Homo sapiens: one gene and its partners. Changing the gene in region 4 together with the main gene of any one other region gives a genetic interaction. Each region holds a gene or a part of one and is shown on either strand. Other genes may lie near its edges. The genes, in order: CMAS, PAXBP1, HBS1L and GFI1B.

Evidence for each region.
Region 1: changes in GFI1B (region 4) and CMAS together harm fitness less than expected from each alone (positive genetic interaction), as found in Homo sapiens cells (one large-scale study listed by BioGRID).
Region 2: changes in GFI1B (region 4) and PAXBP1 together harm fitness more than expected from each alone (negative genetic interaction), as found in Homo sapiens cells (one large-scale study listed by BioGRID).
Region 3: changes in GFI1B (region 4) and HBS1L together harm fitness more than expected from each alone (negative genetic interaction), as found in Homo sapiens cells (one large-scale study listed by BioGRID).

Annotation. Positions count from the first base shown.
Region 1 is NC_000012.12:22,060,858-22,068,050, forward strand, and holds the end of CMAS (N-acylneuraminate cytidylyltransferase), read left to right. Parts: coding exon 1-69; intron 70-423; coding exon 424-595; intron 596-1,423; coding exon 1,424-1,577; intron 1,578-2,915; exon of another isoform or gene 2,916-3,070; intron 3,071-4,263; coding exon 4,264-4,454; 3' UTR 4,455-4,811; downstream 4,812-7,193. UniProt on the Homo sapiens protein: Catalyzes the activation of N-acetylneuraminic acid (NeuNAc) to cytidine 5'-monophosphate N-acetylneuraminic acid (CMP-NeuNAc), a substrate required for the addition of sialic acid.
Region 2 is NC_000021.9:32,766,771-32,775,218, reverse strand, and holds the start of PAXBP1 (PAX3- and PAX7-binding protein 1), read left to right. Parts: upstream 1-3,463; 5' UTR 3,464-3,550; coding exon 3,551-3,893; intron 3,894-5,276; coding exon 5,277-5,405; intron 5,406-8,448. UniProt on the Homo sapiens protein: Adapter protein linking the transcription factors PAX3 and PAX7 to the histone methylation machinery and involved in myogenesis.
Region 3 is NC_000006.12:135,045,514-135,053,255, reverse strand, and holds part of HBS1L (HBS1-like protein), read left to right. Parts: intron 1-2,608; coding exon 2,609-2,674; intron 2,675-7,742. UniProt on the Homo sapiens protein: GTPase component of the Pelota-HBS1L complex, a complex that recognizes stalled ribosomes and triggers the No-Go Decay (NGD) pathway.
Region 4 is NC_000009.12:132,978,944-132,986,685, forward strand, and holds part of GFI1B (zinc finger protein Gfi-1b), read left to right. Parts: intron 1-332; exon of another isoform or gene 333-874; intron 875-7,715; 5' UTR 7,716-7,735; coding exon 7,736-7,742. UniProt on the Homo sapiens protein: Essential proto-oncogenic transcriptional regulator necessary for development and differentiation of erythroid and megakaryocytic lineages.

The DNA of each region.
Region 1 (7,193 bases), on a different chromosome or scaffold from region 4:
GCGAGCTGAACATAGTGTGGATATAGATGTGGATATTGATTGGCCTATTGCAGAGCAAAGAGTATTAAGGTAAAAACAAATAAACCTTTATAACCTTTGTACTAAATCTTAATAATTATATTTCTAGATACTGATTTCTGATACTTCAGACATCTTAGGATCTTTGTAATTACTTTGTTCATGTGAGGAAGACATGTAAAATATGTGTTTACATGGCTTCAATAAAGTGAGAAACATTATCTGGCTAGACCACACTACTTTTACTTACTGTACTATATGTTAAAATATATATGTGAAGTAAATTTGGAGAGTAATGTTTGAATAATTGAATGGAGGGTGACATTTCATGTATTGGTTTAGCCAGATGAGAGGGAGTGATTAGTACTGCACTTGTACTCAAAGGTCTATTTTGGTTTCTTTTAGATATGGCTATTTTGGCAAAGAGAAGCTTAAGGAAATAAAACTTTTGGTTTGCAATATTGATGGATGTCTCACCAATGGCCACATTTATGTATCAGGAGACCAAAAAGAAATAATATCTTATGATGTAAAAGATGCTATTGGGATAAGTTTATTAAAGAAAAGTGGTATTGAGGTATGTGCTCCCTGAATATAGCAGTATTTTATAATATTTTGATTCAGGGTCAAAGAACATGCAAGGAATTAAGAGATTTAAATTTTTAGTATTAACTCTTAAAATATCTGAAATTTGGCCTTCATACGCCTAGAAAATTATTATACTATTTAGTTTTAGATGAGTAGAATTAGGAATTTGTTAATCAGCAAATAATATTTCTTGTTTATTCAGTAAATATAAACATAACTACTTTTAAATGGGAGCTATCTAATGTTTCCCAAAGGATCTTGCAGCAAGAAAGATTCCCTAGATAATAGGTGTACCATTTTAGAAAAGGACGATATCCTGTGGATTTTTAAAATCTAGCTTATTCTTATGAATGACATTTTTGATTCAAAATAACTTAACGTTTAAGTGTATTTTTTTAAATGAAAGCTAGCTAAGATAATTATAATTTACCAGAAATCCTAAATATGTATTGCTAAGCAGCACAAGAGAGAGGTTATAGACTTTCCTCTGGATAAATTGAATTATAGGAGAATCTTAGAGTAGTATCAGACAATATATGTTGTAATTTTTACCTGTAGATAGAATCCTTTCTATTGTAGAAAATAAAATACTGTGTCTCACCTTTATTGGGCTATGAGAAATAAAATGAGCTTTGTTTTAAAGCATCATGATTTTAATTCGACAGTCAGTTTTCTTACTTGGACCTTCAGAAAGTCAAAAGATGACTCGTTTGTGATTTGGACTGTCTACAAGGTCAATTATTATGAAAGATTTCTGTTTTCTTCACTTTTTAATTTTTCCCTTCTTCCTCCAATCCTTTTTTTTTTTTTTTTTAAGGTGAGGCTAATCTCAGAAAGGGCCTGTTCAAAGCAGACGCTGTCTTCTTTAAAACTGGATTGCAAAATGGAAGTCAGTGTATCAGACAAGCTAGCAGTTGTAGATGAATGGAGAAAAGAAATGGGCCTGTGCTGGAAAGAAGTGGCATATCTTGGTTGGTATCTTTTTATTCACCCATAGTAAAATGGACCAGGAATTAATTATTTACTTATTTTTAAAGAAATGACAAAGCACATCCTCCAAATGGGTATGATTGTAGGGAAATAGGAACTCTTTTAACAAACACTGCTGATCAAACTGTTAAACTGGGACAGTCTTTCTGGAGGTTAGTTTGATAATAGGTATCAAATGTAGAATGATTATTAGCACAAGCTGTGAAGTCAGACTGTACCACTGATTAGCCAGTTGTGATAAGATGAATGTTGTTTCCTCATCTGTAAACTGGAGATATCGAGAGTACCTATTACCGTAGGGCTCTGGAAGGGATTAATAAAATAATATGAGTAAAGCACTTAGCAGAATTTCTAGTACATATGAATTACACTCTGAATAGTTTTTGCTGCTAATTGAATGTACATACTTTTTCCTCCAAATTCCAATTCCAGGAAAGAAATGAGACAAATGGGCCAATAGTGAAGTTAAAAGAACCCACTTAAATGTCCTGTGAAAAATAGAATATCCCTAAAAAGGATTACTATGCAACCATTACAAACAGTGCTGTGACCTGTATTTATTTGCATGATCAAATATAACAATGTTTTTCACTTGGATATTAAGCAATACACTTACTTACCAGGTACCTATGATGATACGCAGCATGGAACTGGTTGTGGGAACTGTAGGCTTTCTGCTTGCAGAGCTTACAGTCTGATGATGTCAACATTTTAAAATTGATAAGTTATTAAGATGCATAATAACTATAAATCATGTATGAAAGCAGTATTTACAAGGGTAATATGAGCCTCAAAATAAGAAGCACAGGAAAAACTTTGGGAGCATGTGATCTAGAGACTTCAGGAATAACCCTTAAACCACACATGAAGATTTAATGGACATAAATGCTGCAGAATGTTTGTTAAAGACAGATCCAATTTTTATTAGAAGAAAATTTTAGTGGAATGTATAACAAATTCCAACTATACTTATTATCTTTCTTTGGGATGTTAAGCAAGCTTCTGTATACCTTAGTTTTCTACTTAGAATATAAACACAAACCAAATTTTATAAAGCCATTAGAAAGAAAAACAAAGATAATATAAAATGCTTAACATAGTGCCTACAGATAGTAATAAGTGTATCATTTATATAGGTAAAACTCTAGAATTATATGTGTCAAAATGTAGTGATTATCTACAAATAGTGATAATTAGGATGATTGTGACTTTTTTGCTTCTATTTTTTAAAAAAATATTTCTACCACGAATACGTATTACTTATATGACATTAAAAAAAAAACACACACACACACACTTTAAAAGGAGAGGTAAGAAAATGGAGAAGAGCATTTACATTTTTATTTAAAACTCACAGCAGGCCAGGCATGATGGCTCATGCCTACAATCCCACCACTTTGGGAAGCGGAGGCAGGCAGATCCCTGGAGCTCAGGAGTTTTAGACCAGCCTGTGAAACATAGTGAGGCCCCATGTCTACAAAAAAAAAAAATAATAACTCACTCACCAATGTTTTATATGGGTGACATAAGTGTATAAAAATATATTTCTTAAAAAAATCAATACTTTTATAAGTAAAATTTAGTAAATAGAGCTTAAAGGCTGGATTATGCAAATACTAACTTTTTTTATTTTAGTGAAAACGATTCAAATTTCAACACATTTAATAATAAATGAGAAAATTTCAGTAGATAAGCATAGAACAAATGTAAAAGAAACTCTCTTCAACCAAGATTGTACTATTGTATGTGGTCTAAAGTATAGTAATAGTTTTACTCAGAATGGTGAATTAAAGATACTGGGAGCTTCTGAAATGCATCCTATTCCAAAAAAGGGGTTAACAGAGAGGGAGGAAAAGGATATCGTTATGTCAGTATGATTTAGTATCTATTTTTATTCTTTAAAAATGGTAATTTTTCAGCAACTATTAATAAATGGCATACCAATCAGAACCATTACAGATTAAAAGAGATTTAAGAGATTATATATATATAAACAAAAGACCATATGTTAACCTTATTTCATTCCTGATTCAAATAAGTCAGCTATAAAAGGACAATTTTGAGACAGCTGGGGGTATCTCAACATATACTAGGTTATTAGAGGATATTAAGGAACTATTACTGATTTTGTGGGTTTAATGATATTCTGTCAGATAAAAAATTATATTTATCAGAGATAAATATTGAAGAGTTTTTGGATAAAATATTATGTCTGGGAATTCCTTCTTCTCCCTTTCCCCAAATAAACTAGGGGGCAGTGCATAGAAAACAATATTACTAAGTGATTTTAAATTCTGATAATTTTTCAATATAAAATTGGGGTTCTCGCATATGTTTGAAATTTTGCTTAATGAAAAATTTAAATAACTTACTTAGAATTCATATATAAAATTTCTAACATTTGTAATATGCATGGCAGGTAGCAATTATGCTCCATTCTTCTTCTCTAGCTCATAAGAGTTTATTTTTGATTGCTTAGGGAAAACCCTGGACCTCAATTATACTGTAAAATATTTTTGTTCCATCTAATCTTTAGTATTCTTATATGCAGTGCCCCTAGGTCTTACTGAAGTTGCCAGAGTTACCTGTTGGTTGCTGTCTGCATTATTTAGCTAGAATATTCTTTGTCTCTTTAAATGTTTGCTCAGTATTTATTTTACTTGATAGGAAATGAAGTGTCTGATGAAGAGTGCTTGAAGAGAGTGGGCCTAAGTGGCGCTCCTGCTGATGCCTGTTCTACTGCCCAGAAGGCTGTTGGATACATTTGCAAATGTAATGGTGGCCGTGGTGCCATCCGAGAATTTGCAGAGCACATTTGCCTACTAATGGAAAAGGTTAATAATTCATGCCAAAAATAGAAATTAGCGTAATATTGAGAAAAAAATGATACAGCCTTCTTCAGCCAGTTTGCTTTTATTTTTGATTAAGTAAATTCCATGTTGTAATGTTACAGAGAGTGTGATTTGGTTTGTGATATATATATATTGTGCTCTACTTTTCTCTTTACGCAAGATAATTATTTAGAGACTGATTACAGTCTTTCTCAGATTTTTAGTAAATGCAAGTAAGAACATCATCAAAGTTCACTTTGTATTGTACCCTGTAAAACTGTGTGTTTGTGTGCTTTCAAAGATGTTGGGATTTTATTTATCTGGGGACAGTGTGTATGGTAAGACATGCCCTTCTATTAATAAAACTACATTTCTCAAACTTGATGAAAACTGCCTTGTTGCTCTAGAAGAAATTTACCATGCATTTTCTTTCTTTCCTTTAAACATTAACCAATCTTAGTGAGAAACAAGCCACTCGATGCCGGGGTAGAGCATCTGATTGTACTTCACATATGTATACGTAACAGCATATGGTCTATGTGGGGGTTGGTTCCAGGACCACCCACATATACCAAAATCTGTGCATACTCAAGTACCACAGTCAACACTGTTGAACCCACATATACAAAAAGTGGGCCCTCCATATACTGCATGATTCACATGTATTTTTGATCTGCACATGGTTAAAAAAATTCACATAAAAGTGGACCACACAATTCAAACCCATGTTGTTCAAGGATCAGCAGTATACACAAATACAAATATCCAAATAAATTTATATATTATGAAGATTATGTATTTATTTGGAGGAAGCAAATTATTTGCAGTTACCCCTGAGAGATAATGGTAATTTTGCATACAGGAATATCTTAGAGATATTACGGGTTTGGTTCCAGACCGTTGCAATAAAGCGAGTCATAGGAATTTTTTGGATGCCAGGTACATAAAATGTTATGTTTAAAGTAAACTGTAGTCTATTAAGTGTGCAGTAGCATTATGCCCAGATAAACAGTGTATATACCTTAATTTTAAAATATTGCTTAAAAATGCTAACAATTACCTGAGCCTACAGCGAGTCAATCTTTCTGCTGCTGAAGGATGTTGCCTTGAACAGTGGTGGTTGCTGAAGGTTGAGGTGGCTGTGACAGTTCCTTAAAATAAGACAACAATGAAGTTTACCACATCAATTGACTCATGAAAGATTTCTCTCTAGTGTGTGATGCTGTTTGATAGCATTTTACTCACAATTGAACATCTTTCAAAATTGAAGTCAGTTCTCTCAAGCCACTGCTTTATCAGCTACATTTATGTAATTTTCTAAATTATTGGTTGTCACTTCGTGTTCATAGCATCTTTACCAAGAGTAGATTCTATCTCATGAAACCACATTTTTTGCTTATCTGTAAGAAGCAACTCCTCATCCATTCAAGTTTATCATGAGATTGCAGTGATTCAGTTACATCTTCAGGCTCCACATCTAACTTCATTCTCTTACTATTTATACCATATCTACAGTTACTTCCTCCACTGAAATCTTGAGCCCCTCAAAGTCATCCATGAGGGTTGGAATCAACTTCCAAACTCTCATTAATGTTGATATTTTGACCTCCTTCTATGAATCATGAATTCTGTTTTTTTGTTTGTTTGTTTGTTTTGAGATGGAGTCTCGCTCTGTCGCCCAGGCTGGAGTGCAGTGATGCAATCTTGGCTCACTGCAAGCTCCACCTCCTGGGTTCACGCCATTCTCCTGCCTCAGCCTCCCAAGTAGCTGGGACTACAGGCGCCCACCACCATACCCGGCTCATTTTTGGTATTTTCAGTAGAGACGGGGTTTCACCATGTTAGCCAGGATGGTCTCGATCTCCTGACCTCGTGATCCACCCGCCTTGGCCTCCTAGAATCATGAATGTTCTTAATGGCATCTAGAATAGTGAATACTTTCCAGAAAGTTTTCGATTTACCTATTTCCAACAGAGCAATCACTATTGATGGCAGCAATACCCCTAGAACTGTATTTTTTAAATAACAAGACTTGAAAGTTGAAATTATGCATTGATCCATGGCTTCAGAATGGATGTTGTATTAGCAGGCATGAAAAACAACATGAATCTGCTAGTACATCTCCATCAGAACACGTGGGTGACCAGGTGCATTGTTCATAAGCAGTAACATTTTGAAGGAATCTCTTTTTCTGAGCAGTAGGTTTCAACAGTTGGCTTAAAATATCCAGTAAACCATGTTATAAACAGTTGTGCTATCACCCAGGCTTTTCTGTTTCATTTATACTGCACAGGCGTGGTAGATTTAGCATTATTCTTAAGGGTCCTAGGGTTTTTAGAATGGTATTGAGGATCAGCTTCAATGTAAAATCATGGCTGCTTTAACGTTCTAACAAAAGGATCAGCCTGTCCTTTGAAGATTTGAAGCCAGACATTGACTTTTTTCTAGCTATGAAAATCCTAGATGGCATCTTCCAACAGAAGGCTGTTTGGTCAACACTGAAAATCTGTTGTTGAGTGTAGCCACCTTCGTCAATCATCTTAGCTAGATCTTCTGGATAACATGCTGCAGCTTGTACAACAGCACTTGCTGCTTTTCACCTTGCATTTTTATGTAATGGAGATGCTTCATTCCTTAAACCTCATGAACCAACATCTGCTAGCTACCTGCTTTTCTCCTGCAGCTTCTCCATCTCTCTCAGCCTTCATAGAATTGAAGTGAGTTAGGGCCTTGCTCTGGATTAGGCTTTGGCTTAAGGTAGTCTTG
Region 2 (8,448 bases), on a different chromosome or scaffold from region 4:
CATCTCAAAAAACAAAAACAAAACAAAACAATAACAACAAAAAAGTTTTAAAAAATAAGAAAGCTTATAAAGTAAAAAAGTTATAGTAAGCTATTTATTATTGAAGAAAGAAATATGTTTAAACATTTAGTGTAGCCTAAGTGTACAGTTGTTTATAAAATCTACAGCAGTGTACAGTAATAACCTAGGCCTTCATATTCACTTACCACTCACTCACTGACTCACCCAGAGCAACCTCCAGTCCTGTAAGCTCCATTCCTGGTAAGTGTCCTATACAGGTGCACCATTTTTAAAGCTTTTATGCTGTATTTTTACTGTATCTTTTCTATGTTTAGATACAGATACCATTGTGTTACAAGTGCTACAGTATTCAGTACAGTAACATGCCGTATAGGTTTGTAGCCTAGAAGCAATAAGCTATGCCATACAGCCTAGGTATGTAGTAGGCTACACCACTAGGTTTGTGTAAGTATGTGATGAAATTGCCTAATGGCATATTTCTCAGAATGTATCCCCGTCAAGTGACAAGTGATTGTATTGTGGCTTACTTTAAAATGAGAGGTACTCTTCCCTCTATCCATATCCAATCACCACTTTTACACTGGGAGAAATTTTTGAAATTTCAGGCCACCATAATAACATATTTGGCTTCTGGACCTTGTCTTTGCTACCTCTACCCTAATTATTTTACTGCAAATCTTTCTCTTGGCTCAGGTGTCTGGAGGCTGATCAGGCACAATTTGAATCTTCTATGATTAGAAAAGGGAGTTCAATTTCACTAGTGAAACACTGTTGGAATCAGAACTTACACCAATGCTGAACAGCCAGAATATAAGAACTGAGAGTAACATAAGTAGAATGGAAGCCAGATGTTATTAACCCTTCCTATTAACTAGAAGAAAATGTTAATGTTATAGAGGATGCTCTTAGCTCCAAAACTGAGTCCTAGTTGTGCACATGTCAAATCTAATTAAAAATATAAAAATTAGGCCGGGTGTGGTGGCTCATGCCTTAATCCCAGCACTTCAGAAGGCCGAGGCAGGCGGATCACAAGGTCAGAAGTTTGAGACCAGCCTGGCCAACGTGGCAAAACCCCGTCTCTACTAAAAATACAAAAATTAGCCAGGTGTGGTGCCAGGTGCCTGTAATCCCAGCTACTCGGGAGGCTGAGGCAAGAGAATCGTTTGAACACAGGAGGCAGAGGTTGCAGTGAGCTGAGATCGTGCCATTGTACTCCAGCCTGGGCGAGAAGAGCAAGACTCCGTCTTAAAAAACAAAACAAAACAAAACAAAAATACAAAAATTAGCCGGGTGTGGTGCCAGATGCCTGTAATCCCAGCTACCCGGGAGGCTGAGACATGACAATAGCTTGAACATGGGAGACAGAAGTTGCAGTGAGCTGAGATCGTGCCACCGCACTCCAGTCTGGGCCATAGAGCAAGACTCCGTCTCAAACAAATAATAAATAAATAAATAAATAAAATAAAAAGAAATGCTTGGAGTGCTCGGGATCTTCCACTTCAACCTGGAATTTAAATCTTACTGAAATTTCTACAGGATGGTGTGGGCAAACAGGCATCCTAATGTTTGCTGATATAAGTGCAAACTGCATAACTTCTATAAAAAGAAATTTAGAATTAGCAAAATCATAAATGCATATATTGAGATCTAGCAATTTCAATTCTATTTCATCCTACAGATGTAACAGTTTTTCAAAGCTTTTCATTACAGCACTGATTAAGACTAGAAATAATCTAAATATCAATGTTTATGGAACTGGTTAAATAAATTACGGTATATCCCAACAATGAATCACTACGCAGGTGGGTTAAAAAAAAAAATAGACGGCCGTGCGCGGTGGCTCACGCCTGTAATCCCAGCACTTTGGGAGACTGAGGCGGGCGGATCACGAAGTCAAGAGATTGAGATCATCCTGGCCAACAGAGTGAAATACAAAAATACAAAATAAATTAGCTGGGCGTGGTGGCACGTGCCTGTAATCCCAGCTACTAGGGAGGCTGAGGCAGAAGAATCACTTGAACCTGGGAGGCGGAGATTGCAGTGAGCGGAGATCGCGCCATTGCACTCTAGCCTGGGCGACAAGAGCGAAATTTAGTCTCAAAACAAACAAACAAAAAACCAAAAAAACACAACCCTTCATATACAGATATGGGCCGATCTCCAATCTACGGTAGGCTAAAAATGCAGCTTACACACCATCTGTGTAAAAAGGGGAACACATTAAAATATGCATATTTATTTGCTTTTATGTTCATGGAACATCTTTAGAGGATCATAAGAAACTGTTAACATTGCCACTGAGGAAGTGAACAGCCTTCCAGACATGGGTGGATTTTTTTCACTCTACCGAATACCCTTTTAATTTCGAAACATCAAAATGAATTCGCATGCACAGGTGCATGCCCGAAGGAAAAACTTCTAGTTCGGTGATGAGATAGGGAAAGCCGGTGAGTTCAACCTTAGGCGCAATCACCCTGTGAAGGTGTGGCCAGCGAGGGCTTTGTCACGCAAGTCTGAGAACTGTCACAACCTTCCCCACCCCCTGCTCTATTTTCCTTCCACTTGTTTCTGAAACTCACTAAGCTTTGGAAAGTATTTAGTCATAGAATTGCTTGCAAACTTGGCATTCTTTAGAAAACACGGAAACACTTTTGCTTTCCTTGTTCCTGAAAGACTGGGGAACGGGGGACATCAAGCCAGGTAACATTGTATCATAACTGAAATTCAATGTCTTTGAAGTAACATTGTACCATAAATGAAATTCAATGTCTTTGAAGTAACATTGTATCATAAATAAAATTCAATGTCTTTCTAAGAGCTCTGTAGCTATAAAGCTGTAGAAATACAAAGTATTACTCAAGAATAACTAGTAATTACCAATAGTCACACCTCAGGTCAAAGTTTGGAGAGGACTATTCCACCTACTAGATCACACTTTCCTTCCCGAAAGCCGCTTCTCTCTCTGGCCTCTCCCCTCCTCCTCCTCCCTCATCTGTTTGGCGGGAGGCTTCCTCACATTACCGCTCCGCGTAAGTGCGAAGACGCACTGCAGCAGCGCCGTCTGAGGGACAACAGAGCCTACTCTTTCTTCTCATCTCTATGATCCTCTTTGTGACCTGTCAAACAACACCAGAGTTCCATGCTAATAGTACTCCACTCCGACAGAGAGCGATGCAAAGAGCCGACGCTCTCGCGAGAGGTGTGGGGCTCTCTCTCTCTCTCTCGCTCTCTCTCTCTCTCTCTCTCTCGCTCTCTCTCTCTCTCTCTCTCTCTCTCTCTCTCTCTCTCTCTCTCTCTCTCTCTCTCTCTCTCTCTCTCTCTCTCTCTCTCTCTCTCTCACTCTCTCTCTTTCTCCAAGTATTGAGAGCGCGTGGGAGCATAGGCGCATGCGCGCTCGTGGGGTGCGCGGTAGCAACAGAGGACTCGACCCGGCTGGAGCTCCGGAGAGCGCGCGTGCGCCGTCACGAGCTCGGCGCTGCCGGGGCCGCGGTGTGGAAGCGAGTATTCGACCGCCGTGCGGGCCGCGGGGATGTTCCGAAAGGCCCGGCGGGTGAACGTGCGCAAGCGGAACGACTCCGAAGAGGAAGAGCGGGAACGCGATGAGGAGCAGGAGCCGCCGCCGTTGTTGCCGCCGCCGGGCACGGGCGAAGAGGCGGGCCCCGGTGGCGGCGACAGGGCCCCTGGCGGGGAGTCGCTGCTGGGCCCGGGGCCGTCGCCGCCTTCCGCGCTGACCCCGGGCCTCGGGGCTGAGGCCGGGGGCGGCTTCCCCGGCGGCGCGGAGCCCGGCAACGGGCTGAAGCCGCGCAAGAGGCCTCGCGAGAACAAAGAGGTGCCCCGGGCCAGCCTGCTCAGCTTCCAGGACGAGGAGGAAGGTAAAGTGCGCGCTTCGGACGCCCTTAGACGGCCGCATCCCCGACGCAGGCCCCCGTCCCCCGCCCCCGTATTCTCTGGACGCCCAGCCCCGGAGCCCTGGAACGGAGTCCCCTGCCGTCCGACCGGCTGCGAATCTTCCCCAGCCTCCGGCCTTCTGCTCGGGCAAGGGACGCGTTCCCGCGCTGCCCCCAGCCTTTTCTTAACCACCTCCTCTGCCACGGGGCCGGAGCTCAGATCAGGCATTCAGAGTGTTTCAGGGGAAATTCGGTGTTCCCTGTCCTGCCTCTTTTCTGCCTGGCGTGTTTCAGGGCCAACTTGGTGTGGGTCCCCTGGCTGCTCTTGGCATGCTTTCCGAGCCCTCTGCAGGTCACTGCGCCCACACTTCTTGGATGCTCTGTCCAGGCATCCTCGACCATGAAGGCCGAGTTTGTAAAAAGGAATACTAGGAGAGGGAACAGAAGCCTGGAGTTGCAGCTCTGGTTCTGAGTGACCTTGGGCCAGTCCCTTGCAGTCGCTGAGCCTCAGTTTACCCATAAAAGTAATTAGGGGTAGCAGATACCCAGCCTTCTTCGCACTGACTTTGGGAACAGTGAAGCGAGACGGTGTAAAAATAGTAAAAGCAAGGTAGTTTCTCCAATTCCTGTGGGAGGCCAGGCTGCAGTGGTTTTAGATTGCTGATCTTAAATGAGCCTTAAATCTTTTCTTCTGACCATTTGAATGTGCATAACCCAGTTAATTCCATGTTACGAAAAAAGAAATTAAGTTTTGTAAATCTTGCATTTTTATTCGAGAGGTTTCCAGTAAGGTAGGTAGTTTATCTTTGGCATTTCTGTTACTCTTTATTTGGTTTGAGAGGAGTACAGACAGATTTTTGTTTTTGAGATACATGAGCTATTTTTTTTTAAGTATTTAGTACTTTTAAAATTTCAAATCAAAGAAAAGTGATTTGCCCTTACCTTAGCTTTAAAACCACTATGTCAGCTTGTGGTGGATGTAGTTACTCAGAATTGACAGCACCTTTTTATTTTAGATATTTTGTTTCGGATTCGTTAATAACTTGGTGATGTGGTTTTTCAGAAACATTTTGAATGATTTTTTCCCCTCTCAAATAGATGATTTAAGGACGACAATAATAGGAAAATTTTGTGAAGTTACATGTGCTATTCCTTTAAAAAGTCTCAAAAATCTCATTACTTCACAGTAATTTAGGAAGTTGACCTCTGTTTTTGAGTCTGTGACAGACTTGAAATAATTATACAATGATTTTGGCATATGAGTATATATATTTGGGATAATTTGGACAGCACGTAAGATCATGTGAAAGAAGGGAAAATATTTTCAGAAAATAGTTGCTACAGACTTCATTTAATTTCCTTTTTAAGAAAATGAAGAAGTTTTCAAAGTGAAGAAATCAAGTTATAGCAAAAAGATAGTAAAATTGCTCAAGAAGGAATATAAAGAAGATCTTGAAAAATCGAAGATTAAGACAGAACTCAACTCATCAGCTGAAAGTAAGTACCAAACTAATTGAATTCTTTTGAAATGACAAAATGAAAGCTCTTTCTCACAGTGATTTGCTGTATATCTTCTGAACTCATTCAGTGGACCCTGTGGTTGTCAAGGGCCCTTATTGAGTAGCAGTACAGTTCTGTTATTTAATTGTAACACAGATGCTTTGTAAATGTATTTTATAAGAAGACAGAATTGTTGCCACTGGAACATTTCTGCTGCAATGACTAGATTCTCTCACAGTTTTCCTACTTGTGTGCAGACTGCTGTTGAACAGAGAAAGAAGGTTTCTCATTTTAGCCTAAGACACAGGTTTATTTCTGTTTGAAGGAGTGTTGTGCAAATTCTTGTATTTTGTAGAGACAGATTTGCGATTTCTTTGGTGGTATTTCCACAGTGGATTTTATTCTTAGAGAACTTTTAGGAATGCCCTAAATTTAATATTAGTATTACTCCCATTCAGCAGCCTTATCTGATACTAGATGAAGACTCCTTAGAATAATGAGGCAGGTATATTGTACAGACATCTCTTACGTCTCTCAAAACCTCAGTTTAAAAAATTTTAAGCGGTTATTTTGTCTTTAGGAAAGTGGATCCAGTATAATATTCTATGGTCTGAGTTATTCTCCTGCAAATGCTATTTTATTTTATGGAATTAATGAGAAAATCATGATTTTCCAGATTCTCACTTACAGGCTTATTGTGAAAAAGTATGGCTTTGTATCTCAAATTTACAATCTAGATGTGAAGACAATATCTCATAAATGTGTAAGAGGACTCAGTGTTTGGCAAAATGTTCAATCAGTGTTCCAAAGGGTGGCTACTCTTTCAGAGGAGAGAGGACTGCTTTATGGAAAAAGTGGGACTCGAAGATGGATCTTTGATAGTTAAAATTCCGAAAGGGAAGGTATTGGGGGTATGATCAAGGATTAAAATGACTAAAGCTGTTTTGGAAAAGAACAAGTACACCTGACAGGTCAGAGTAGATGATTTGTGAAGGAAGTAGTTAGAAGTTTCATGTGAAAGATACGTTGACAGATTGTGAAGGATGTTCAGTATCCAGTAAGGGTTTACATTTGCTACAGTGGCTTGCCAAGATGGTGACATGATAAATGCGTTTTGAAACTTTAGCCTGGTATTAACATGCAGCATGAGGAGAGATTGGAGGCCTAAAGCAGTTTAAACTCAAGGGCCAGCTTTGATCCATTAATAGTGGGTTTAAAAAGGTCTCACAGTTGAGCAAGAGTAAAGGCTTCTACTGATTTAGTAGGAAATTCTGGATGAGTTAAAAATGTTTTCTGTTGTTTTAGGGGGAGAAGTGGAAAGAAAGAATGATTTGAGAACCATTCCAAGGGAAGAATTGATAGGCTTAATATACACTTTGCCATATTGGATTTAAAAGAAAGAGTCAAATTTGAACTTTTGTCCTGGAGTGTCTTAATCCATTTTCTGCTCCTGTAACAATACTACAGACTAGGTAATTTATAAACAATAGAAGTTTATTTGGTTGACAGTTCTGGAGTCTGGGAGGGCCAAGAGCATGGCACAGGCATCTACTAAGGGCCTTTATGTTGTCATAACATGGTAGAAGGGCAGGTGAGTCTCCAAGACAGAGAGAGAATATCCTGCCAAACTCATCCTTTTATCAGGAGCCTGGGATAATGGCATTCACCTTCTCATGTTGTAACTGCCATTTAAGGGCCCCACCTGTTAATAACGTTACAATGGCAATTAAATTTCAACATGAGTTTTGGAGAGGACACTCAAACCATAGGGTGTCTTGGTTATGAATAATTATATATAGGAATAGAGAAGGCAAGTGGAAGGAGGAATGTTTTTAGGAGAACTGGTTATTTTGGAGTCTAGGAAACTGCCTTATTTTCCTCAGAATTCTTGAGACCAACTATATATGATGAGAGTAAAAGAAAGGTCAGGATAAGTGACAACTGAGAAAGGCCTGTTGTCATGGTTGTTGTATTAAGTCTGTTTTCATGCTGCTGATAAAGACATACCCAAGACTGGGAAGAAAAAGAGGTTTAATTGGACTTACAGTTCCACGTGGCTGCGGAGGCCTCAGAATCATGGCAGGAGGTGAAAGGCACTTTTTACATGGCGGCAGCAAGAGAAAATGAGGAGGAAGCAAAAGCGGAAACCCCTGATAAACCCATCAGATCTCGTGAGACTTATTCACTGTCATGAGAATGGCACGGGAAAGACCAGCCCCCATGATTTAGTTACCTCCTCCTGGGTCCCTTCCACAACACGTAGGAATTCTGGGAGATAAAATTCAAGTTGACATTTGGATGGAGACATAGTCAAACCATATTAGTTGCCATTTATTGTTGGGTTTAGAAATTGAAACAAGTGTGAAGTTGATGAAGCCATCTCTGACCTCTTCCATCCTTCTATCCTCATTGAATTCTGATACTCCACTCACTAGATAACTCCAATTAATGTCCTCTGAAGGCGGAGTCTGATTGTATTGTAGGTTGTCATTGGTAACACTGAAATGAAGGTCTGTCATTAATTGGCAATCCAGAACTCTTCCTACCTTCAACCCTCTATAGTAGGCAGAGACAATTAACTTCAAAATAACCACGGTATTGACTTGAGAACCCCATTTTTCTGATATTCTTAAAATAATGAGTTCTCTTTTTAATTTGAATTTGAGTGGAAGTAGTCAGTGAATACCTAGAGATGTAGATTTGGGGGTGGTGCTTATTGCGGTGATAATTAAAGGTGAATGGAATTGATGAGGGAGCCGTATATAAAGGAAAAATTCCTGAAGACCAAAGACTTCTACTCTAGTAAGCCTACATGTAGAGGAAGGGATTTACCAAAGAGATAAAAGAATCAGGAAGGCCAAAGAGGAAAAGAGAAGAATGTTTCAGGAAGATGATGGTCGCTTGTGTGAACTAGTACAAGAAAAGTCAGGAAAAGTGAGGACCAAGGAGGGGCTATTGGCAAGATTGCCCAGCGTTTCTCTTGAGGGCTTCTGACAGGATGGATGGGAGTGGCCCACCAGCCAGACCCAGTGCCCTCAGA
Region 3 (7,742 bases), on a different chromosome or scaffold from region 4:
CGCTATGGGAGGGATACACAGATGAGAACACTTAATTCAGAATGGATTGGGGGGAATTTAAGCAGGATTTCTACGTTAAGGAATGCTTCATGGAGGAGAGGTGGTTGGCCTCAGGGAGCACCTTGGCTTCTTGAGGTTAGGTTGTCATGTTGTCATGCTTCTTTGAAACAATTGGTGACATCATAACCAAGCTGTTCCTGTAACATTAAGGAGGTTCATCCCCTTTTCTTGTTTATAAAAGTTGTACTCATTAAGGTCCAGTTTATTTCTCTTCTTCCCAGTTAGGCTTTCTCTTGAATTCTCAGAATAATAATTTAAAAATTCTGTTAAGAAATATAACCTCATTAGAGAGAGTTTGTGTTCTAAAACCTACTGGTTCCGCTACTTAACTCCCACTTTGTTTTTCTCTGTAATTTATGTAATACTTTACATGACTGCCTCAGTCACTGATTTAAAAGTCTCAGGAAGGCAAAATCCATACTTTAAGTAGCTGGCACAATGTTCTTTACATGTGGTAAATATTTCATAATTTTGTTGATTGAGGAAACAAACTATGAAGATTGCAGGAAAGAATTCTCTTCATCTTTATATGTTGTGGCACTTTAGGGTCAACTTCAGCATTGACAAACTGACCTAGTAAAAAAGAGTTTTTTTTCTTTTTTTTTTTTTTTTAAGAGACAGGATCGCACTTTGTTGGTTGGCCAAGCTGGAGTGCGAGTGCAGTGGCATGATCATAGCTCTCTGTAACCTCCAACTCCTGGGCTCAAGCAATCCTCGTGCCTCAGCCTCCCGAGTAGCTAGGTCTACAGGCATGTGCCCCCATGCCCGGTTAATTTTTTATTTTAGTAGAGACAGCATCCGGCTGTGTTGCCCAAGCGAGATCCTCCCTCCTCGGCTTCCCAAAGTACTGGAATTACAGGTGTGAGCCACGATGCCTGGCCTATTGTTGTCTTCAATATCTAAAAATACTTTGTTTGTGAATGGCCCCTTGTTTATTTGCAAATAAATTTTTATTAACTTGGGATTGTGATCTAATAATTTATTTAATCATATATGTTTTTGCCCAATAGTAGCATTTATCTAATTTTTCTTTGCTGTAAGCATTTGGTCTCAGCCTTTGAGCATGCTGTTCCTGCTGCATGAATACCCTCAGAAACTAGCTAACTCTATCCTTTGGAATTGGTTTGGATATTATATTAATGGGGATCTTTCCCTAGCTGCCCCACTCCCGGTTCTAGTTTTGTCATTCATGTGTGTGTTCCCAAATTGCTCTGTGTTTCTCACATCAGGCACTTGTCACATGGTTTTGTAATTGCCCATTATCTTGTGTGTATTCCTTGTCAGATTTTAGGTGCAGTGATAACTGGAAATGTGTTCACTGTTATACCACAGTTGTCTCAACTACTCCCTGGCATGGTGTTAGTGTTTGTCAAATGAAATTTATGTAAATATATTTATGTTCTTTGTGGGTTTTTAGTTGTAATTAGTTTGATTCATTAATTTATAATAAAACAAATATTAATCTAGTGCCCCATATGTGCCAGGTAGTTGGCTAAACCAAGTCTTGCCCTGAAGAAGCTGATAGTCTCATGTAGTGAACAGGCGTAGCGCTCTGTAAATTGGGTAAGTGTGCTGGAGGGTAACAGTAGCAGAGGGGCTTACTGCTTTACCCAGAGTGGTCAGGGAAGACTTGTGCAAAGAGGAGACATTTGAGCTGGAACCTTAACTAGCAGAAAGAAATGGCCTCGGAAAATCTAGGCAAAGAGCATATCCCAGGAAGCAGAAAAAAAGGGCAGTTAGCCATCAGCAGGTGGGCATAGGGAGTTTAGGGTAAGTTGGTTTGTATAGATGTTACCTAGCTCTCCATAAAGAAATACTACTTTCATGATCTATTATATACCCCCATGTTCTGTGGAAGAGAAGTGCTTTGGTTTTAGAGGGCACATGGTGAAAAAAATGGTTTATTTCAGATTTTTGTCAACACTGGAGAGACTAAGTATTTTTTTTTCTTTTTTTCTTTTTTTTTCTTTTTGAGACGGAGTCTTGCTCTGTCGCCCAGGCTGAGTGCAGTGGCGCGGTCTTGGCTCACTGCAACCTTGCCTCCTGGGTTCAAGTGATTCTCCTGCCTCAGCCTCCAGAGTAGCTGGGATTACAGGTGCACGTCACCATGTCTAGCTAATTTTTGTATTTTTAGTAGAGACGGGGTTTCACCATATTGGTCAGGCGGGTCTCAAACTCCTGACCTCATGATCCACCTACCTCGGCCTCCCAAAGTGCTGGGATTACAGGCGTAAGCCACCGTGCCTGGCCTCAAGTATATTTTTTATAGGATTATTGTATTTGATCCTATGAGGTGAAAACTTGGGACCTGGGTAAACCCAATTAATTTAACAACTGAAGAACTGTGTATGTCTTTATAAATATAGAGTTAGTAAATAACCTATTTTGTGGGTGAAATTCTTAAGAGTTTTTTTGAAAATAGACATTCTAGGATCCTTAAATTTTGATAAACAGTTTATTTTGGAGAGGATTCAGATGCTTCCTCACTAGTAACTAAGAATATAAAAAGAACTTGTAAATGAATTTATCTCTTTTGTCTTTATTTTAGATTTTGAAGATGATGATCTCTACGGCCAGTCTGTAGAGGATGATTATTGTATTTCGCCGTCAACAGGTGAATTTTTAAAAATAATTTGATTCCTTAGATTTGGTGTTTAAAAATGTAAATGTTAGTCGTTCAAGGACTGGAGTGTTCTGTGAGACTGTAATATATAACATTTAAAAAGTTAATTATATGTTAATTATTAAAGGCATATAAAATAATTTCTTTTCCTGTGAGTAGAATTTAAATTTGTGATTCTATTATTTAGTTTTAAATAATGTGAAAAAGACTGTGGCTTCTTTTCCACCATACTTTGCATCATGCAGTTAATCTAAATATACTAAAATGGTAATTTAGTCAATAATGAAATTCTGAAGCCTCTGGAGGCAGGCAGCCATTATATCCTCAAGGATCTTTTGAGTATTAGAAACTTGGAGGTGTTATGCCTAGACTTTCCTTTATACAGTACTTTAGTTTATCTGTTGAACAGTTTGGTAAATAAACCAATATATGTAGTTCAGACTTCTTTTGGAGCCACAGAGGAATTTGGCATTCATATTTCTGTATAATTCCACATCAGAGCTGCATCTTCTAGATTATCAGCCCAAAGATTTCTTCTCTGCCACCATATAAGGAGAACATTGATATATTCTTCCCAGCAAAGGCTGAGTCATTAATCCTGATCCTCCTGTCACTTATTTCTCTAACACTACATTTGTCTCCAAATTTCAGCCTACTGTCTACACAGGTTAAAATGCCCTGCTAAATTTTAGTATGGTGTAGGCCAGGTACGATGGCTCACGCCTGTAATCCCGGCACTCTGGGAGGCCGAGGCAGGTGGATCACCTGAGGTCAGGAGTTCGAGACCAGCCTGGCCAACATGGTGAAACCCCGTCTCTACTAAAAATACAAAAAGTAGCCAGGCATGGTGGCGAGTGCCTGTAATCCCAGCTACTCAGGAGGCTGAGGCAGGAGAATTGCTTGAACCTGGGAGGCAGAGGTTGCAGTGAGCTGAGATCACACCATTGTACTCCAGCCTGGGCAACAAAAGCTAAACTCCATCTCAAAAAATGGAAAAAAAAATTTAATATGGTATAAAAAGAGTGTATAATAGTATATTTACCTGTGGTTGGGTATAGCATAAATATAATTTATAAAACTCATTTTTCACAAGTTTAAAGGTTTGATATAATTAACATTTCTTTCAGAGCCTTCTGCCATGGTCTGAATGTTTGTTTCCCCAGATTCACATGTTGAAATTCTAACCCCAAGGTGATGGTATTAGGAGGTGGGGCCCTTGGGAGGGGAGGTGATTAGGCCATGAGGGTAGAGCCCTCATGAATGGGATTAATTTCCTAGTGAAAGAGGTCCCAAGGAGAACTCTTTCCCTTCTGTCATGTTAGGACACAGCAAGTAGGTGCTGTCTGTGAGCCAGAAAGCGGGTGTTCACCACACACAGACTGCCTTGATCTTGGACTTCCTAGCCTCTGAACTGTCAGAAATTTCTGTTTATAAGCTACCTAGTTTATGGCATTTTGTTATAGCAGCCTGAATGGACTAATACATCCTCCTTGTCTTAATTACCCTCTAGTCCGCTGGGCTGTCTTATAAACTGTACCTGCTTTCATCCTATTTTTAGCCTCTGCAGACCAAATATGCCCCTTCTGACTTTTATAATTTCTTTTTCTTTGTAAAGGCATAGATATGCTAGAAGTTGTCTTTATCATATCTACTCTGTCATCCTTTTCCTGTTAACTGGTTATTCTGAAATGCATCTAGCTCTTTATGTACAGGCCTGCTCTTCTGGTCAAGTACTTTTCTCATTTAGCTTAATCATGGCTTTTCCTCTCATCTTTTAATGTTTCACTGTTATCAGTCTATATTCTGTTAGGAGATAAAAATTGCACCAGTTATTTTATCAGAGAACATTTAACATCAAAAGTTGTTAATGAGGTATTATAGAACAAATAATGCAAAAAGTGCAACCAGGATATCAAGAAGGTAGTAAGTTCAGGAAGCACTTTACTGTCCCTAGTTCTTAGGGGAACAAAAGGCAAGGTTGAAACCACCTTTTAGAAGCTGATGGAGGCTCCTTGCAGCTGTGACTTAGACCTTGAGGAGAGGGTTCTTTGCTGCTTTGCCTCTGAAGTTCACAAGAGGGACTGTGGGGCCAGGACTCAGACCTCTGGGCAGGGAGGCACTGCATGGCTGATGCTGGTGCCTCAGAAGGTCCCTGAATCTTAGAGCTGGGATTCAGCCTTTTAAAGAGGGGATTCCGCCTTTTAAAGAGGGGATTCCAACCTACTGGCTGGTCGTGTTGTCTGGGGAGTGAAGAGGCAAATTGAAGCTGGTTCTGGGAGTTTTGGAAAAACTGAAAACGGATATTAATTGCAGTTACTGGAAGAAACTGCTTCTGGAAGGTGAAGTGAGTATTGCTGGGGTGATACTGGAACAAGAAGCAAAAGGAAAGGAGCATGTGCCTGCCTTCTCTGGCTTTCCGGTGTCCCTTTCATATCTCCTTATTGGATGATCCTAAAAGGGAGCCGGGTATCAAAGAAGAAATGTGCTTTGCAGTGACTTCAATCCAGCATCACAAAGCTGAGTAAAGGATGGTAGGTTAGAAGCTGAGAGGTGGCTTAATAAGCAGCATTCCTTTATAGCTCCTTATTCAGGGGTTCAAAAGAGAAGACATTTTGTAGTGACTTAGGAATAAAACAATTTCACATTTTTCTAGGAACCTCCTAGGCATTTGCCCTTTGGGGCTCCTATAATTCAGCATCACAGTTGACTAGGTAACTTAAATATTAGAGGTGACAAAGTGATGTCTGGTAGTGCTATCCTCATCACTCACATTCTAAGCACATTAGAGAGCATGGCATATAGAACTGAGAAGATGATATGGTTATATTAGATTTGAGTTAAAAAAATCTCTAATACATAGTTAATGGATTAAAGGTGGTATATGGGTGGATGTAAGTAGACTCGTTAGGAGACTGTTATATGTATTTATCTAGAGGAGATGAGGCTATTTTAGGACAGTGTTCTCAAAGTGAACCATCAGCATCGCTTGAGAGTTTGTTAGAAATGCAATGTTGGGGACTCCACCCAAGAGTCAGAAACTAGGAGTGAGGCATAGCAGATGTTTTAACAAGCCCACTGGGGTATGCTCGTGGTATGCATTGAGAACCATTTGTTTAGGGCAAGAGTTGGTAGCATTGGATTTGGAAATACATTCAAGAGAAAATTTACAGGAGTTGAGGTCTGCAGGACTTGGAAGTTGGTTGAATATGGCTTTGTATAAGCGTGGAATCTTTCAGAGGGGGGATTACTGAAAGACACCTTAATATTGCAGGTTAACCCAGTCATTTATCTAGGCTTCTCTGGATAAATGTTATGTTATCTTGAATAATAAGGTAATAGTACAAAGTCAGACCTTCAAAGGGTGTTTCTCTGAGACTTGCATTTATGGCCTAGCTTCCTTGAGGACAGAGACGGAGTTTATCCATGTGTCTCTCATAGCTTTTGATGTGGCTCTTACCTGTGGTTTGTATTCAGGACAGTCTGACTCTGAGAGTTACTTTTCAAACACACCAAGAAGCCAACTGATCTTATCAAAGCAGGAGATAGTTAAATGTTTTTGGTTTCTTCTGTGACAAACTGATTTTTAACAAAAGCATACGACTTTGGATTTTTAAATTTTTCAAAACATTTTAAAATAGCAGTAACATCAGATAAGAAACTTACTTTCCTCTATAGTGGTATATTTTCCAAGTAATTTTCAATAAAAAATGAATGGTTTTAGAAGAATATTTTCTATTCTTAAGCAGCTAATGTCATTGAAAAGCTGATTGTATTCATGGTGTAATGAAGTCTGATAATTGAAAGACTTTATCAATTAATTGGAATTTCTTTCTAAAATTCATCAGCACGTGTATATTTTTTTGAATTCTATTAAGCTCAATTTTCCTGGTCTCACTATGCTGCCCAGGCTTGTCTCAAATTCCTGAGCTCCAGTGATCCTCCTGTGTCGGCCTTCCAAAGTGCCAGGATTATAGGTGTGAGCCACCATGCCCAGCCTAGGATGGTGATTTTTAAACGTTAACTTTTCTTTCTTTTAGAAAGATTGATACTGAGTATTGAACCTATGTCAAAGAGTAGGGGGTAGCAAAAGGAGTTTGCATATAAAACTTTATTTGAATGGTGATGTATTTTGTTTCAGCTAATATGATTAGAAGTAATCTTTGTTTGCTCCATTCTAATTTCACACCTTTATTGTATATTCTTTTTTTTTTTTGTAAGAAAAACACTATTCTAATACATTTATAAATTAGTTTGGTATAAGGAAGCTTGTTTAAAGTCTTGTTCAAATAACTTGCTACAACAGTACTGTGGGTAAAGAAAATAACCCTGACTGAAGGAGTCTGGGAAGGCTTCTAGAAGGAGGTGGGATTGAAGCTAGGAAATTTGGGAGTAAGAATGGCATCCCAGCTAGAGGAAACAACGTTGCTTAAGCAATGGCCTCTGAGTGAGGCTTGTTTCATCAGACTACCAGGATTAATGCAAGTGGCAGGAGGAAAGAGGGCTAGGAAAGAAAATAGGAATGAAATTGTGAAAGACAGTTTCTAATTTTGTGTTTTTAGTGTCAACTTATTGGAGTTTTTTGAGTAAGGGAGCTAGTATTTTGTGCAGATAACTGATCATGGTCCACAAAGTGGCGTATAGGTGGGCCAGAATAAAGGGGAGACTTGTAGTTCACCAGTGTTTCTTAATCTTACCTTGTGATATGAATCTGCTGGGAATCATTTTTTTTTTTTTGAGACGGAGTCTCATTCTGTAGCCTAGGCTGGAGTGCAGTGGCACGATCTCGGCTCACCTCAACCTCCACTTGGCTCCCAGGTTCAAGCAGTTCTCACGCCTCAGCCTCTCAAGTAGCTGGGATTGCAGGCGCCCGCCACCACGCCTAGCTAATTTTGTATTTTTAGTAGAGATGGGGTTTTGCCATGTTGGCCAGGCTGGTCTTGAACTCCTGACCTCAGGTGATCCACCTGCCTGGACCTCCCAAAGTGCTGGGATTACAGGCATGAGCCACTGTGCCTGGCCAGAATAATTCTTAAGAATACAAATTTCCTGCTTCATTCCA
Region 4 (7,742 bases):
AAAGGTGAGGTGGGCTGGAAAAGCTCTGGAAGGCAAGGAGCCAAGGGAGAAACAGGGTGAGGACGTAGCCTCGTCTGAGCCACTGTGCTAGGAATTGCGCCTTTGCCGGCTGCGCAGAAACACTTTTCAAAATTTGATTTTAGGCTGACAGACGTCACCTTCGGGCACAAAGTCATACCCACAACCCAGCTGTCCTGGGGACCTGGGCAGTGCTCAGGGAGACACACTTCCAAGTGCCTGAGTTGTGTTCCCCCTCGGAGACAGTCCCAGACTTTAGGGACTTGACTAAAGTTCCTGGGACACTTTTTTTTTTTTTTTTTTTTTTTTTTTTGAGACAGAGTGAGACTCTGGAGCGCAGTGGTGCGATTGCACTGAAACCTCTGCCTCCCGAATTCAAGCGATTCTCCTGCCTCAGCCTCCCAAGTAGCTGGGATTACAGGCGCGTGTTACCACGCCTGGCTAATTTTTGTATTTTTAGTAGAGACGGGTTTCACCATGTTGGCCAGGCTGGTCTCGAACTCTTGACCTCAAACGATCCACCTGCCTCAGCCTCCCAAAGTGTTGGGATTACAGGCATTAGCCACTGCGCCCAGCCAAATTCCCAGGACACTTTGAGAGTCAGGCGCTCTCCCCTCCAGAGCCTACTAAGGGGAGATGACAGGGCTGCCCTCTCCCACACACTGCCCAGGCTCCAGGAACAATAGGACCGACCATGGAGAGGTACTGTTTCAGCTCGCCTTTCCCTGTGGCTGTTGTTAGCCCTTTCCACCTATTTTTGGAGAAAAAAAACCAAGTTTAAGTGTTGAGGCATCTGAGGAGACATGCTCACTCTAAAACAGGACTTGTGAAGAGGAGGTCTGCAGAATCGCCGTGGGTATGTGCCCGTGTACATTTTTCCGGGGAGAAAGTCCAGAGCTTTCACGAGTTCTTAGGGAGTAAATTCGATTACAATCTGTGGGCATGAGTCTGGTAGATATTAGAAGCCAGCTGAGCTGCACCTGACCGCCTGGACGCGCCTGCATGTTTCTTAGTAGGCAACAGGCAGAATATTTCTTCCAAGTCTAGCAAAGTGTCAAGTTTCTTGTCCTCGGAAGTATTGCAGAAGGAATTCTTTGGACAAGAAAATGCGTAATTCCCCTTGCTCTTTCTGTCAGAGTTTGGTCTTCCTGAAGAGAGTTCTTGGGGAACATTGGAGAGCTATACCTGGTTTCGGTTTGATTAATGGAATCACTCAAAACCAGCGCAGACCATTGCCCCGAAGCTTTCAGCGGGGCAGGGTAGGGTGGGTGGGAATCTTATTGGACAGTACAAGGATTTTCAAAGGCTCTGGGACCAGATGGCTCCAGATCACCCAGGGAAAACAGCCTGATCAAATGGGATTCTTCACTGTCTGTGCCACAATATCCAGACCCTTGGTTGAAACATCAGCAAACACCACCCCCTCTTAGTCTAGAGGGAGGCTTTTCGTGTGTTCCTTGCCAGGAATTCAAGCCAATGGGAGCTGCTTTAGTCTATAATATAGAGATATGCAGAAAGAGTTTCATTCACTCACTTGTCTTTTTATTTTGATAAAATACATATAACATAAAATTTCCCGTTTTAGCCATTTTCAAGCGTACCATTCAATGGTATTAAGTACACCCACATGGCTGTGCAACCATCACCACCATCCATCCACAGAACTGTTTCATCTCATAAAGCTGAAACTTCATACCTATTACACAGTAACTTCCATTCCCTTCCCCTCACCTCTGGCAACCTCTATCTATTTCTGTCTCTATGAAATTGCCTATTTTAGGGACTCATATAAGGAATCACACAGTATTTGTCCTTTTGTGATTGGCTTATTTCACTTAGCATAAATCCTTCAGGTTCATCCATGTTGTAGCATGCGCCAGCATTTCCTTCCTTTTTAAGGCCGAATAATGTTCAATCATATGTCTAGACCACATTTTGTTTGTTTGTTTGTTTGTTTGAGACAGAGTCTCTGTCACAAAGCTGGAGTGCCATGGTGCGATCTTGGCTCACTGCAACCTCTGCCTCCCGGGTTCAAGCGATTCTCCTGCCTCAGCCTCCTGGGTAGCTGGGATTACAGGCACCCACCACCATGCCTGGCTGATTTTTGTATTTCTAGTAGAGGTGGGGTTTCGCCATTTTGGCCAGGCTTGTCTTGGAACTCCTGACCTCAGGTGATCTGCCCACCTCGGCCTCCCACAGTGCTGGGATTACAGGTGTGAGCCACTAAGTCTGGCCATAGACCACATGTTGTTTGGACATTCATCTGCCATGAAACCTGGGTTGCTTCCACTTTTTGCCTATTGTGAATAGTGCTGCTATAAACATGAGTATGCAGATATCTCTTTGAGTCTCCCCTTCCAATGATTTTGGGTCTATACCCAGAAGTAGATTCACTCACTTTTGACATTGCATTCTCTGAGCTTTGGAGGAGACATTTGAGAACTCCTTCTAAATTTCAAATAAAAATGATGATTTAGACCGGCCTGGGCAACATGGCAAAACCCCGTCTCTACAAAAAATACAAAAATTAGCCAACTGTGGTGGTGCATGCCTGTAGTCCCAGCTACTCGAGAAGCTAAGATGGGAGGATCGCTTGGGCCTGGGAGGTGGAGGTTACAGTGGGCCAAGATCAAACCACTGCACTCCAGCCCAGGTGACAGAGTGAGACTCTGTCTCAAAATAATAATAATAATGATGGTGATGATGATGATGATTACTTTCTGCTGGGGCCCCTGGGCCTGACCTGGGCTCATTTTCCCCCGACTCCTCCACGGACAAGTCTTGTTTTCCCCTTGAATCTTTTTTTTTTTTGACAGAGTCTCGCTGTGTCACCCAGGCTGGAGTGCAGTGGCGCCATCTGGGCTCACCGCAACCTCCGCCTTCTGGGTTCAAGTGATTCTCCAGCCTCAGCCTCCCGAGTAGCTGGGATTACAGGTGCCTGCCACCACACCCAGCTAAGTTTTGTATTTTTAGTAGAGACGGGGTTTCCCCATGTTGGCCAGGCTGGTCTTGAACTCCTGACTTCAGGTGATCCGCCTGCCTTGGCCTCCCAAAGTGCTGGGATTACAGGCGTGAGCCACCACGCCCGGCCTCCCTTGAGTCTTTAAACATAAAGGAAGTCAAAAAGGTTCTCTGTAGCTGACCCTGAGAACCAGCTGAGTCTTACCCAACCCTCCCAAAAGGGGAACCCGAGTGACAAGTCTTTTAGTCAAGGTGGTTCAATCTCTCACTGAAGGTCAACGAATTCTACATGGGATTTTAGAGCAAAAGGGAAGTTTAGAAATCTCTTAGCCCAACCGTCCCTTTTAAGAGATAGGAAAACCAAGCCCCAGGTTGGTGGCTGATGCGGTCACAAGCTCCAGGACCCCAAATCAGACTCAACTCCTTGGGCAACAAAGGGGCCTCATTACAGGGACATCACAGGCCTGTTGACCCAAGTCCAACTGGAAGTTAGGGTGCTGGCTCCTGCCAGGGTGCAGGGTCGCCTGTCTTCAAGAAGCACTGACTGAGATTCTGACTCAGGGTCAGGGGGACTCTATCAGGATCGGGGGTTATGGAGTGATAACAGTGAGCCTCTTTCCGGAGGTCCGATACCATCAAGTCCTCTGTTTTATGAAGAATTCCTGAGCTTCTTTCATAATCTCTGCTCTTAGCTCCTTCTCAGAACGGAGTTCATGTCAATCAAAACCAAGTGGTTGTTAATTAACTACAGTATAGGTGATTGGTTCCTGTTTTTTCTTTAAAAAAAAAACAACTCTGCTAACAGGGGCCAAAAGGAAGTTCACCGGGTGCATTTGGCCCCTCTGTGAGCCAGAGGGCTTGGCCGTGGCGTTGGCTGTGTCACTGTCACTTGCCAAGCTCAGGGGAGAGAACACTGGGGGGAGGCAAGAAAGCGGGTGTGGGGCTCAGGGGAGATCACTAGAAGAAGCATGAGAATCACCTTCCTGAGGCTGGAGAACCCCAGAAGCCAGCCCCATCTTGCCCTGTGCCTAAGTGAAAAGTGCTTGGCCAGGGCTCATGAGCGCTAGAAAGTGTCCTTGTTGTGGGGCCCAGGGTTAGAGTCAGTTGACCTGGGTTCTCCTTAGGCCCTGAGCCCAGGAGAATACCAATGCTTCCTGAAGGGAAGTCTGTCCCTGGCCTGGCCCCACCAAGACTCTTCAGGAGCCATGTGGGTCTTTTAGGAGCCTGGAAAAGACTTGAGGGTCAGAGGGTTTGATTTTTCTCCCTCCTTTTTTTTTTTTTTTTTTTTTGAGACAGAGTGTGGCTCTGTCACCCAGGCTGAAGTGCAGTGGTGGTGTGATCTCGGCTCACTGCAACCTCCGCCTCCCGGGTTCAAGCGATTCTCCTGCCTCAGCCTCCTGAGTAGCTGGAACTGTAGGCAAGTGCCACCATGCCCGGCTAATTTTTGTATTTTTTGTAGAGACGAGGTTTCACTGTGTTGGCTAGGCTGGTCTCGAACTCCTGATCTTGTGATCCGTCCGCCTCGGCCTCCCAAAATGTTGGGATTACAGGTGTGAGCCACTGCACCCGGCCTGATTTTTCTCCCCTCTTGCCCCAGCACCCTGCATTTCCCTCTGTGCTGCAGGCGGTGTTCACCGGGTGCTGTGAGGACCTCTGACAGTGCTGGGTGGCACAGTGGCTTGAGAGTAAAATCCTAACAGGCCAGGAGCCCTGGGTCTGAGTCACTTTCCTCTCTGCACCTCAGTTTTCCCACCTGCAACCTGGGAAGACACTGCTTGACACGGGCACACGAGGGAGCTTCAAACTGCTGTTTTCATCCCTAGCACGTCGGCTCCACTCCCTCTGCAGAGAGAAGCCCATGCCGGGCACTGCCCAGCACTTGGCACCCATTCTGCACCGAGTAACTGCCCACCTGCTGGGCTGAAAGTCAAGAGCATGGAGGCCTGGGGCCAGACAGACCCCAGTCCTTCCCTGCTCACTCTGCCCCAGGGTCCTGAGCCCTCCAGGCTTCAGCTCCTTCTTTATAAAATGGGACAGCAGCGGGACTCAGCATCTGGATTAAGCATCAGAATTAAAGGTGTAATAAACAAGGCAGGCTAAGCAGCCCCCTGCCAGAAGGTTTGACCAGCTCCTCTTCTATCACAGAAGCCTTGGCGAGTACCTTTGGTTCTAGTTGATTTCCTCATAAATATTATGCGCAAAAAAGGATCATCTTTTGATATTTTGATAGGCAAACCATGACCCTCACAGGCCCCCTCAAAACAAAGTGCAAGGGGAACCCCACACCCCCAGTCCTCCTCCTGCTCACTGGGTCCCCTCCTCTCCCCCTAGGGTCTGGCCTCCCCATGGGCTTTCTTGAAGCGAAGAAGAGTTAAAAGCGGGAAGGAAGGGGGGTGTGGGGAGCCCTGGTGAGGGAGGGGGAGGAGGCAAGAGGAGGAAGACGTGTCCCTGGGAGATAAGGCCGTGGGCTGCCCCCGGCCCGAGCCTGTGTTCAGAGAGCCGAGAATCTGACCGCGGGAAGGGACCCCAGAGGCCTTCAAGGTCCTTTCTCCTAATTTTAGAGCTCAGAGAGTACAGGGCCTTGAGCGCGGCCCTGGCTTCTGGGAGGCTGCTGCAGCCCTTGGCACAGGGCTTACCCCGTCCTTTGAATGCACCTGCAGTGGGCTGGGTGCTGGGATGCGGGGGAGCACATGCTGAGCACCTCTCACACTCGCTCCTGATGGATAAAGGTCCTTTCTCGCTCCCCACCATCCCATGTGGTTGGATTGGGATCCCCGTTTAGCAGATATGAGCACTGAGGCTCAGTGATGAGCCTTACAGCAGGCAAGGGCTGGGCCTGAGCTTGGCCCCCTGTGCAGAGCCCCCAGTCCAAACTCTTGATGCCCCCAGGCTCTGGGCCAGGGGGAAGCAGGCCTGGGCATAGTCGGGTCCCTCTTCTGCCTGGCTGTGGTTCATCTCCTTGGGGAAGGGGTGAGTCCCTGGCCCTTTTCCAAGCTGCATTCTCTAATCTCCCACCTCCCACCCTGCTCCTGGGCCAAGGCCTTATCACCCAGGCCCTCACTGCTGTTCTGAAGCAGCTGTGATCCCTCTCCCGCCTTCTCCGGACCCTATCACCCCTGCAGCCTTGCATGGCGGCTGGCCCAAGGGGTGGGGGGGTGGGACTCCTCTGACGCCTCAGGCATGGGCCTGGTGTCGGCCTGGGTGCAGCGTGGGGGCAGAAAGGATAGAGGACCACCAGAAGATGCTCTCCAGAGTGCCCGGGGGAACCTCACAGGCTGAGTGCAGGGATGTGAACCATTCTGGGGGCCAGGCAGGGCTCTCAGCTCCAGAGGGCTCTGCAGGGGAAGCCAGGAGTCCTGGGGTGGTCAAGTTGGTCCAGCCCTGTCACTCCCTGACTCTGCCTGGGATGGTCCCTTGACTGATGTGGTCCTTGGTTTCTTCTCCCACTCCCTGACTGGTGGGGTTGGTAGTGATGCTGGGCTGCCCACGGAAGCTGGGGGCTGTTCGCCTCTTCTCCTGTGTCCATGAAGCCTCAGGCCTCCAGGTGCAGTGGAGTTGGGGGTCCTCTCAGGTCTTGAGTCCCCACACCCCACTCCTCAGAGAGAGAAAGCCCCTGTCTCTCTAGGGAACAGACTCTGGGCCAGGGCTGTGGACAAGGCGCAGCCGTGCTCTGGCGGCTGTGGCTTGCGGCTTGCAGGAGCACGTGGATTGGCAATGTCCCCTCGTTTGCTGCAGCTTCTCTGCCAGAGCCCCCAGTGATAGACACTGAACACCTGTGATGCACCTGTCAGCACTGCAAGCCTGGACATCCCCACTTACAGCAAAGGGGATAGGCCCAGAGAGGTTAAGTGTGTGTCCCAAATTGCACAGCAAGTGAACTGAGATTCTAACCCACGAACCACTGATTCCAAAACCTAAGCTCAGACCACCCGTTTCTATGGCCTCTGAAGGTGAATCTCACTGGTACCCAAATGTAGCTTTCTAGAATTGGGGTCCACTGTGTGTCACAGAGGGAGACCCCAGTCCCTGCCTTTCCTTTTCTGCTCCATTGCAGCCCAGGTCATGCCAATGGGAGCAGGCTTGTCTGAGCGTTTTCTAGGGGGCGATGCATTCATTTCCTGGTGAAGGAGCAGTGAGGGAAGTTAGGATTTGTAGCTGCCGTAACAAAATAGCACAAACAGGTGGCTTAAAACCAACAGAAATTTATTCTTTCATGGTTCTGGGATCTAGAAATCCAAAATCGAGGTGTCCGCAAAGTGGGTTCTTTCTGCAGACGCCAGGGGAGAGGGTTTCATGCCCCTCTCTGAGTTCTGGCGGCTGTCGGCACTGCCTGGCATTCTCTGGCTGATAGAAGCTCCGAGTTCTGGCGGCTGTCGGCACTGCCTGGCATTCTCTGGCTGATAGAAGTGTCACTCTCTGCTCTGTTGTCGGCACACGGCGTTCTCCCTGGGTGTCTGTGTCTCTGGGTCCAAATTTCCATCTTCTTATAAGGACACGAGTCATCTTGGATTGAGGGCCCATCCTAACCCGGAATGACCTCATCATAACTTGATTACATCTGCAAAAACACCCTATTGCTAATAAGGTCACATTCACAGGTTCTGGGTGGACATGAACTTTGGGGGCCACTGTTCAACCCAGTATAGCTGGTGTTTTATCTCAGGAGGAGGTTCTGAGATATGGAGGGGTATTGTTCTCTTGTCCTTCCTAACCGCTCCCATCCCTCCCCCTTGCAGGTGTGGGGTGCACACTGAAAATGCCAC